Regions from separate parts of the Homo sapiens genome. Here region 1 is linked to region 2. The links come from fine-mapping of genetic effects on gene expression. A gene starts in region 2. The other region holds a variant in brackets. All regions are shown on one strand. Distances are from middle to middle.

Region 1 (5,372 bases), 97 kb after region 2:
TTTCTAGTTGACTGTGTTTTTCTTGCAGCACACTGAAGACTCTATGCCACTCAGACATCTACTGTTGCTGTCAATAAGTTAGCTATCCATTTAGTTGCCATTTCTTTGTAATGAATGGCCTGTTCTCTGTAGGTTTATTTAAGGTATTTTCTTCCTCTGGTGTTCTGCAGTTTCCTGATGATATGTCCAGGTGGGGATTTCTTTGATTTATCTTGCTTAGGATTCACCAGGCTTCCTGGATCTGAGAAGGAGCATCTTTCCAAAATTCTGGAAAACCCTGTCAGCTTTCAAATATTAGCTCTTCTGAAACTCCAAACAGATATGTGTTAGGTGTCCTCACTCTGCTCCCGTGTTTACCCCCAGCCACACTGATTCCCAACTGCTTCCCAAATGCCTGGCATCTTCTGGGCCTCTCCGGCCCTCTTATTTTCTCTTCCTGCCTTCTCTGACTCCTCTGGAATCCCCCCCTTGACTTTTAGATCACTTATCATACAGCACCATAACTATTATTTAACTATGAGTCTCTCATGCACTGTAAACTCCCTGGAGTGAGGGCTACCTTCAGCCCTGGCACCAGACATTAGGGTGGCACCCAGCAAGCTTGTGACAGCCTGGCTGAGCTCTGAGGCCTAGAGAAAGGCAGCAGAAGGTGGCAGTGATGTGTCAATCTCAGAAGACCAGGGAATGCTCCCCTGAGCCTCCGAGACAACTAGTCTCTTCCCTCATTCCTACTCTGAATTCTACAAATGCTTCTCTTAAAAGCCCCAGCTCTGCTGCTCAAGGATGGACAGGTGAAGAGGAGACTCCTTGGCTTTCAAAAAGATGAACCAACTGCTAGGCATCCTACATGTAGCTTCATGCCTTCTCGTCTCTGAAATGCTGAATAGCTTTAGTAAGGGCCTATTAAGCCACACCAGCCACTACCTTTTTTTTTTTTTTTTTTTAGAGACAGGTTCTTGCTCTGTCACCTAGGCTGGAGCGCAGTGGTGCAATCACAGCTCACTGCAGTTTCAACCTCCTAGGCTCAAGGGATCCTCCCACTTCTGCCTCCCAAGTAGCTGGGACCACAGGCACACACCCCCATGCTGGCTGATTTTTTTATTTTTTGTAAAGATGGGGTCTCCCTATGTTGCCCAGGCTGGTCTCACAGGTTTCAGTTGTCCCACAAATTCTTACGTAAAAATATATTATTGGCCAGGCGCAAGGAGACACTGCACCTGGCCCACCAGCCACTATCTTGGTGGCCTTTTTCACTTTTGGCCGGGATCAGCTACTGGCTAGCTGTAGCAGCACTAGGAGGGAGAGGAGGAGAGTGCTGCCTTCACTCCTTCCCAAGCTTGCCCCGGCGATGGGGGCCTGGCCAGGCCAAAGCAGATGTCAATCTGCAAGCTTTGTTCCCAACATCCCATGGATACTTGTGCCTTTCGTTTCCTCATGGCCTGTCCACTCCTGTTTGGACTCAGGGCTTCTCCTGCTACTGCCCCAGAACCCACAACCTTCTAGAGGCTCCAGAAATAACTGTTTCCATCCAGAAGCTTCTTCTGACACTTCACTCCTCGTCTTCCAGTGTCTCATGCAGATCGTCCTCCCCCAGGACTGAAGCTGCCCTTGCCAGGTCCACCTCTGCTCGACATGGGGAAGGGGCTATCAGTAAACAAAAATCTGCCCCCTGCTGGAATCACACTGTAGAGACAAGCCCTCACTCTAACCCCCTGCAACAGGACACCTTGTGGGTCCTCAGCTCTCTGTCCCAGCTGGACGTAAGTGGCATGGTGGAAATGACAAATCAGGGAGAGAGCTGACTGCAAGCCGAAGAGCTGTGGTGTGACTTCAGGACTGCGGTGACACAACACAGAGGACACGGGAGACCTGGGGCCAAGTGCCAGGCTGATTCTGGCCCCCTGTGGAGCCTGGGGGAGTCAACATGCCTTCCTCACTGCCCATGCTCAGCAGCCCAGCTGTGCCTGGATAACAGACTGGAGCCTCGCTTTCCCTGCAGCCCTGACCATGCATCATCTCCCCTGCACAATATCTCACTCCCCAGCTACTATCCCTTCCCACTTGCCTCTGTCAGGGGACATGCCCCGGTTACTTCTATCCCCCACTCCTGCTTTCTCCTGCAAGGATGCCCTGGTTCTCCTTGGAAGAATTCTCCCCTCACCCACTTCCAGTCAGTCTCAAAAGGGACAGATCCTGCCCTGGCAACAGAAAAGGGTTCTCACTGGTTAAAGTCAATCTGCAAAGTGTCCCCAACTCCAGTCCCCCATCCCTAAATCCCAGAAATGGTACTGGAGCTACAGAGAAATCCACTCTCTCTATTCCCTGGGCTGTGTTAACTGGGACTATGAGGTGGGCACCAGAGGCAGCCACTGTGCGTGCCAGAGCAAAGGGTTGAGCTTCTGAGGTGAACAACACAGCAAAGGGGGTCTGAGTGTTGGTGGTCACCTCCTAGCCACTGGGTCAAGCTGAGGGCAGCATCACATCTCGAACAAACTGGCTCCCCTGACATACTGTATGTGGGGCACTTGCTGGGAAGGCCCAGCCCCCACTCTGCAGCCTCTATGCCAGCCCGCCATGCAGTTCCCACTCTAAACCCAGCT[C/G]AAAACCCTTCTCAGGGCACTCATGCCGCTTGTGTGCATGTGAGACTGCATCTGTCCCCCTTGCCAAAGCATGTGCTCCATGAGAACATCGGCTGGGTCTGCTTTGCTGCCCATCCCCGAGATCCAAGCCTGACACACAGAGGGTGTGCTCCATCACTAACTAGGGATTGAAGAGAGGTCACAAGGATCAAGGGACCCACAGGACCTCAGGCTGGCAGGGACTTTGCAGTTTATCTGCATCTCTGCACACTGGAGTTCAGTGACCACTTCTAACAGGTTCTGGATAAATGTCCAATTCAGGGGCTCAGAAACACAACCAGATTAGAGTGGCCCATAATCTCCATCCTGATTATCTAAGACATGGAGCTTTCAAGTGTCTTAGACTGAGTGGTATTCATGCACCCTGGGCCAGGGGGCACCAGACTAGTGGTTCTCAACCATGGTTCTTCTTGGGAAGCTCTTAGGGATTTTAGTAAAATACTGATGCTGTCCTCTGCATACACACAGATTCTGGGGTGGGCCTGAGCATTTGGATTTTTAGAAGCTACTGAGATGACTCAAATGGGCAGACAGGATGCATAAGAAACACTGAGCTCTGGGTGCACCCAGACCTCTCACCAAGCCCTCCTCAAAAATGAGGCCCCATGTGAGCACCCAGCTCAGACTTACAAGCCTGAGTGGGCAGATGCGTGGTGGAGACAAGCTCTGGTCTCCCACGGTCACCTTGTTCTATCCAAGCAACATTTGGTCAGCAGTCCCCAGGCCTGGCCCCAGGATGGCCCCTCCCTCTGAGATAGAGAAACAGACAGCCACTACAGCCAGCATGCGGGTCACAGGCAGCCATCAATGGCAAGAGGGCAAGAGGCAGGCCTGAGGACGGGGTGACCACATCCCCTGAGTAGGGATGTCTGAGCCATGATTTCAAAAATACATAAGAGTTTGCCAGGCAGACAATGAGACACAATATAAAGATTAGGCATTTAAGGGAATCCAGGATGCCTGAGCCCCTGCAGAGGCCCTCACCAGAGAGGAGTCTCTGAGCTCTGCTCCGAGCCCCAGGTCCCTCAGGCTTCGCCTTTCTGGCCTCAGCCGCTGCACACCCAGGCTCCCTGCAAAAGTATAATCTGTCGCTGGGCATGGTGTAATCCCAACGCTGCTCACGCCTGTAATCCCAACACTTGGGGAGGCCGAGGCGGGTGGATCAAGGTCAGGAGTTGGAGACCAGCCTGGTCACTATGGTGAAACCCTGTCTCTAATAAAAATACAAAAATTAGCTGGGTGTGGTGGCAGATGCCTGCAGTCCCAGCTACTTGGGAGGCTGAGGCAGGAGAACTGCTTGAACCTGGGAGGCGGAGGTTGCAGTGAGCCCAGATCATACCACTGCATTCCAGCCTGGGCAACAGAGGGAAACCTTCTCTCAAAAAAAAATAAAAATAAAAAATAAAAAAAAAAGGGGCCAGGCGAGGTGGCTCACGCCTGTAATCCTAGCACTTTGGCAGGCCAAGGCAGGTGGATCATGAGGTCAAGAGTTCAAGAACAGCCTGGCCAATATGGTGAAACCCCGTCTCTACTAAAAATACAAAAAAATTAGCTGGGCGTAGTGGCACTCGCCTGTAATCTCAGCTACTTGGGAGGCTGAGGCTGAGTCAGGAGAATTGCTTGAACCTGGAAGGCAGAGGTTGCAGTGAGCCGAGATTGCGCCACTGCACTCCAGCCTGGGTGACAAAACGAGACTCCATCTCAAAAAAAAAATTTAAAAAGTAGAATCTGTCCTTCCATCTAGACGTACTCTCAGACAGTGAGGTTCTAAACACAGTTTAAACTAATAGGTTTATATCTTTAAGAGTTAACACAAGGCATTTTAACATTTCTGGAAATTTTTTTTTTTTGAGACAGGGTCTCACTGTTGCCCAGGCTGGAGTGCAGTGGCATGGTCTTGGCTCACTGCAATCTCTGCCTCCCGGGTTCAAGCGATTCTCATGCCTCAGGTTCCCAAGTAGCTGGGATTACAGGCACACACCACCACACCTGGCTAATTTTTTGTATTTTTAGTAGAGACGGGGTTTCACCATGTTGGCCAGGCTGGTCTCGAACTCTTGGCCTCATGTGATCTGCCAAACTTGGCCTCCTAAAGTGCTGTGATTACAGACGTGAGACACCATGCCCAGCCAACATTTCCGGAAGAATTCTTTCTACCATGAACTCTGCAATATGTGCAGTATCTCCACTGCACGGGTTCTGAAGCACTCTCCATGAGCCAGCAGCACGCTGACCCACCATCCAGGACTCATGGGCCAGGCTTCCACGTGAGAACCCCACACTCCAGTGGAATGCCACCTGAAACTATTCCAGAGACTCTTCTGACACCTCCAGTTAGCTCTTATGGGCCCTGCTTCCCCTTTAGAATCTGCTATTAAAATAACAAACAACAGCACTGCTAAGAATTTTAAAACTCTGCAACTGTATCATGCACAATGTTGAAACTACAAGTTTTGGCTCAGAAAGAACCCCCTACTCTTTTTTTTTTTTTTTTTTGAGATGGAGTCTCGCTCTGTTGCCCACGCTGGAGTGCAGTGGCATGATCTCGGCTCACTGCAACCTCCGCCTCCCGGGTTCAAGCGATTCTCCCTGCCTCAGCCTCCCAAGTAGCTGGGATTACAAGTGCCCACCACTACGCCTGGCTAGTTTTTGTATTTTCAGTAGAGATGGGGTTTCACCATGTTGGCCAAGGATGGTCTCGATCTCTTGACCTCGTGATCCGCCCACCTCAGC
Region 2 (5,372 bases):
GCGCCTGTAGTCCCAGCTACTCGGGAGGCTGAGGCAGGAGAATGGTGTGAACCCGGGAGGCGGAGCTTGCAGTGAACTGAGATCGAGCCACTGCACTCCAGCCTGGGCGACAGAGTGAGATTCCTTCTCAAAAATATAATAATAACAATAATGATAACAAAGGGCGGGAAACTGTAAAGGTAAATAAAAATAAGATGGCATTCGTTTTGTTTCCAAAAGGAAAAGAGACCCCTTCTCCCCCTCCCCTTTCTATTTCCTTGAGAAAGCCTGTATTTGTAAATCCTTCCTCTGTTCCTTCAGATACTTATGCAAGTCTTTTTAAAGTTTAAATAAATCTTTTACCAGAATTAAAACCCAAAACTGTTTTTCTGAAAAGGCTGGGAGCCCCCTCTCGTAAGTGTAACATCAAGGACGACATGTTGCTGTCACCAACGGTGTGTCAAGGCGTGCCTAGGTGCCTTGCACAACCTGCTTTTTTTGTTGAGACGGAGTCTCACACTGTCGCCTGTGCTGGAGCACAGTGGTGTGATCTCGGCTCACTGCAACCTCCGCCTCCCGGGTTCAAGTGATTCTCCTGCCTCAGCTTCCCAAGTAGCTGGGATTACAGGTGCCCACCACCACACCTGGCTAATTTTTTGTATTTTTAGTAGGGACAGGGTTTCACTATGTTGGCCAGGCTGGTCTTGAACTCCTGACCTCGTGATCTGCCCACCTCGGCCTCCCAAAGTGCTGGGATTACAGATGTGAGCCACTGCGCCCGGCCAACAACTGCATTTCCTAGAGATTCAAGTTGCTTTATTTTCCCTACAGAAAAAGGCACTAATTAGCACAGATGACCACCCCAATCACCAGGTGAATTAGGTACGCTGTAAGTGCATGTATAGCAAACGACGCTGTGGAGCTCTCTCTCACCTGAGTTCAAGTCCTCACACATGACAGCATGTGTGTAACGGGTTGTAGCTGCTTGACTACATAAATAGGGGGATTTCTGACTGTCTTTATGATTGCGTTAGCTGATAATGCATCCATGTGTTTAATGCTTATTCAATCACAGAACTAGTATTTTCTTTATTTTCTACATTTGTGGAGAGAATATTCTGGGTTGGCAGGAGATTTTATTTAAAATAGTTTTTTTTCCTCGATAGCACAAGGTCTGTCTTCCAAGTTGCCGTAGGCAACAATTTTAGCAAACGTTCTGCTGTGACATAAAATGCTTTTCCTTACTGCCCAGCCCCCAACTGGTGATACTTTACCTGTCTGATACAGCATCACTCCATTTCAAAGAACCCATTTCTGTGTGTGTTAGAGTAGGGTGGGTGATGGTGTACTAAGTCGACCTAGATGTCGCATCCCCTTCATGCAGTAAAAGTTTATTCCTTGCTCGCGGCGTGGTTTGATGAGAGCCAGTGGAGTTGAGGGCTTATTCCTGATCCAAGCAGTCAAGGGCCTTCAGGTCGCAGGTTCCTCTTGTCTTGCAGTACTGCCATCTGCAACATGAGGGAGGCCTCAGAAACAGGAACCACACGGCAAGTCACCAAACCTCTAACCCAATCTTGGAACCTACCAATCTTGGAACCTGCAGTGGGTCACAGAAGGGAAACCAGCCAGACGTCAGCATGCTGCTGAGACCTCGGTCAATGAGTCACACCTGGGCTCTTGTGAATTACAGAATCAATGTTGGAAGCCCAGGAAGCCAACTAATCAGGTTTGGAACCCAGAAGCCTGGTCGTCTTGGAGTCTGGAGAGGCTTGAAGGCTCCACTGAGCCAGGGATTTGGCACCAGAACTCTTGGGGTCAAGTCCTGGCCTACCTCTGACTAGTTGTTTCCACTGAGACACATTATTTCTCTCAGCTTCAGCGTCCTCCTCTGTGAAAATGTGTGTTCTACATACTGCTTGAGATGATTTCAAGGCTTAAGGGAGATAATGTTTGAGGAAATGTTTTGAAAGCTACAAGGCACAAGACAAACACCACTTAATATTACTCATCTTGTCTCTGCAGAGACATCCCTCACTGGGCCAACTTCTTCCCATCTGTGCAAAGAGTGGGGAGAGGTAGACACTGAACTGTTGTTCCTTCCAGTGCTGCCGGGTGGGATTCTAGCCATGTAACACCCTCCCTCTCTGAGTCTCTGGGCCCCCTCATCCTGAGCCTCCAAAGTCTGGAAGGTTTCATAGCTCATGTGTCCACCAGATGACAGTGGAAGGGCTCAGAAAGATGCTTCCAGAAAGTCCTTCTCCACAAACACTACACAAAGTTAAGACCCTGTTCCCACCCTTGGCTCAGACCCTAAAAGAGAGAGTCACTCTCATTTGTCTTTACCCCACTCAACCCCACCCTGGCTTTGGGATTTCTCTACATTCTGTATTTTGTCCCCAGCCTGTTAACTATAGCTTCACTGCTGAGCCATCTGTTCTAGACCACGTTGCTGCCTCTGCCCACCACACACTTCCCTGGAGCTGGACCTGATCAGCCAGAAGAAGCATCTGAAAAGGAGCATCTCAATTTCAGCACAGTCGACCTTAACAAAATAACTTCAGGAAGTGCACCAGCTTGGGAACCAGGACTTCGGGGTTCCCCTGCTTCTGTCATCAGCAGCTGCACAGGCTTATCTGAGACTTTCTCTCTCTGGGTGTGCACCTATAAAATGCCAGGATTGGATGCAGTGACTACTGCTGTGGTTCTGAGATGGGGAGCTGGGGAGCTGGGGAGCAGGGCTGGGAGGAGAATCAGTTGGGTGAACTCCTGGCTGGCTGAGCCCTGCAGAAGTGGTCCTGGGCTTCTCCTTCCTTCAAGGCTTGACCAAGTTCTCTCTGCTTATGTATCCATTCTGTCCTCTTGCTGGGACAGGTGCTTGTTGACTGCCTGTTGACAGGATCATGGGAAGCAGTTTCTCAGAGAGGAGACAAGAGGAGCGGAACCCCAAGTCCTAGTGGAAGAGCCTGCAAAGGTGCCCATATCCACTTGGCCTTGGCCTGAGGCCTCTTGCAGCCACTGAATGGGGACCTCTGACGTTCACTTCCTTGGATCTCTTGAATTCCAATCTCCCTCTTCCCATCTGTGCATTCCAGCAATGGATCTCATTGGTTCACCTGCTCCCACCATGAAGTCATCTGAGGGTTAAATTCTGTTTCAATAATATACTGGGAAGCTGACATTCACATACACACATTTTATTTTTCATAAAATAAAGGATAATGTGCCCACCCATACCCTGTAAGTTTCATAGCCTAGAAGTCAGTTTCATAGCCTAGAAGTCTTCCTAGTAGTCAGATTTTCTGTCCCCCAGAGGGAGAACTCCCGCACCCCCAGTTCCCAGGGGGCCTGGTGTTTGAGGAGCTGCATCAAGCTGCATCTTCTTACAAGCCCAGGGGAGAAAGGATGTGTTTAAGGGTAGAAGTTGTTCATTTTGTTTTCCTTTGCAAGATTTTGATAGAATCTAGTATAAAGGCTGTCTGGCTTAGCTCAGAATGCAAGAAAAGGTGTTATTCTTTCGCATTTGGGCACTTCACAGAGGGCATGGGCACTCCCCCATCTAAACAGGCTTGAAAAAGGACACAGACCCAAGAGAGGCCCTTGCGGAGGCCCAGCAAAGAGTGGTTCAGGATGCACAGACAGGCTCTCTGGGGCTGTGGGCCAGGAGTGGGAAAGCCACCTTAGTCCTGCTGGAGCAGATTTGGGAAGGGTCATGGGAACAAGTTTCTCTGCTCTGGGGTCTGGGCCACAGTCTACCATGTCCCATCTCTCTGGTTCTGCCCAGTGTTCCTTCCTTCCTGTCATCCCCAGCACCTCATCAGTGCTCCCCGCTCCTGAACACCATGGTCAATCATCCTGGGGCTTCTCACATCTGTGAAAGAACAGGTCTCTCGACCACCTAGGGGTAGACTTCCAGGATGGTGCCTGCTTAACTTTCCTACAATCCAGGGTCATCGGGGAAATGAGCCAGGTGGGGAGGGTGGAGTCTCACTTGCAGCCAGAAACCCTGGGATGTAGCCTATCTGTGACAAGGGCAGATCGGCAACCATCTGCAACCAGAAACAGGCCGGGTGTTCTATCCACTGCCCCCAGATGCTGCCTCCCAGGTTCCAAGAGCCACCTTGAGTCCCAGCTCAGCTGCCACCCAGACACCGAGCATTCGACCAGGGCAGTGCAGTACATGGCGGTGCCTTGGAATCCCTGGCATCACCCTCCCCCGACCTGCCCCTCTTCTTCATCCCCACCTGACATCTCTCCTGTCCTTCAATACCTCCTGGGGCTGTTACTCTTCCTGGAGAAGGGGCTCTCGGTCCCCTTCCAGAAGCCTCTCATCCTCCTCCTTCTCCATGCAGCCCACTGTGGCAGCCAACCCAGCACCCACGCCACCCCCAACCACAGCGGCCCCTGTGGCCCCCACGGCAGCTCCAGCAGCCACCATCCCAGCCTCTGCAGCCAGTGCAGCTGCTGCCATGCCAGCACCCACCACGCCCCCTGCCAGGCCCATGAGCCCGGCCCCCACAGCACCCCCCACAGCAGCTAGGTGGCCACAGAAGCGCATCGTGTAGGAGTCCATGAAGGCCTTGGCCGTGGCCTGCAGCTCAGCTTCCAGTGCCTCCAAGGTCTGATCTCTCCCCTTGCAGAGTAAGGCCACACCATGGCGGGCCAGAATGGCATCTTTCTGGGTGGAGAGGAGGTTCCGCATGGTGTCTGGCAGGACCCGCAGCGCAGAGAATATGCGCTTGGTGGCTACGTCCTGTGACAGGGAGGGGAAAAGAAGGTGCCCTGACCAGGAGTCCCAGGTATCCTCTCCCTGATCTGGACCCTGCCCGGCCCACACCTGCCTCCCGTGCAGCCCCGGGGCTCACCTGCTGCCTCACATACTCCTCGAACTCCCTCTTGGCAGCTTCCACCTTCCTCAGGTCGTGCAGCTGAGCAGCCATCTGTCCACGGGAAAACCCAGGCTGCCTCCTTCCTTCCTTCTCAGCCAGGGGCGCTGCTTGTTTCCTCATCTCCACTCCCAGGGCACACAGACCCCCACCCCGGAGGCCTCGGCACAGCCCCCACCTCCCTGCCTCCCCTGTCTCCCTGCCAGAATGCTGGATCCCCCAGCGCTCATACCTCATCCGGAGAGGTGAAACCGGGCCCTGTCCTCCCCATCCATCCTGAGAGGTTCTGCGGAGATACCATCGCTGGGGTCAGGGAGAGCAGGGGCCCAGCCGAGTCGCCTGGGTCTCCAGGGAGTTTTCACACCTTGATTTCCTGAGCTAGCTGCTGCCCCGTGAGTAGGCGTCTGTCCCCCCTGGCCACGGCGCGCCCCTCGTTCCAGTACCCCTGGCAGCGGCTCTTAGCGTGCTGGGGGGCCGCACTCAGCACATCTGAGACGTAGGCCCCCAGAA

Alleles and levels. Alleles are on the strand shown, and positions count from the first base shown. SD is a standard deviation of normalised expression in the study named.
With allele G in place of C in region 1, the expression in tibial artery of the gene that starts at base 2,086 in region 2 is lower (small effect, 0.36 SD a copy in GTEx).

What was found. PIP is the estimated chance that this variant, and not a neighbour inherited with it, causes the effect. A credible set is the group of variants that fine-mapping cannot tell apart.
Region 1: its variant is the best candidate, but not a certain one, in a credible set for the expression of LINC02094 in tibial artery (GTEx, PIP 0.62).

Annotation. Positions count from the first base shown.
Region 1 is chr17:19,318,313-19,323,684 of GRCh38, reverse strand. The region is part of intron 7 of EPN2 (epsin 2); the gene reads right to left. Among named protein-coding and RNA genes, the nearest start is that of EPN2-AS1, 15 kb to the right of the region's middle. The variant C/G (reference allele first, on the strand shown) is at 2,601.
Region 2 is chr17:19,415,062-19,420,433 of GRCh38, reverse strand. LINC02094 (long intergenic non-protein coding RNA 2094) reads right to left here and starts at 2,086. Exons shown (of 3, transcript NR_186796.1): 1 at 1,565-2,086; 2 at 1,254-1,487. It overlaps RNF112 (ring finger protein 112), which reads right to left. Exons shown (of 14, transcript NM_007148.5): 11 at 5,227-5,372; 12 at 5,095-5,148; 13 at 4,842-4,916; 14 at 3,158-4,729. The coding sequence ends at 4,259.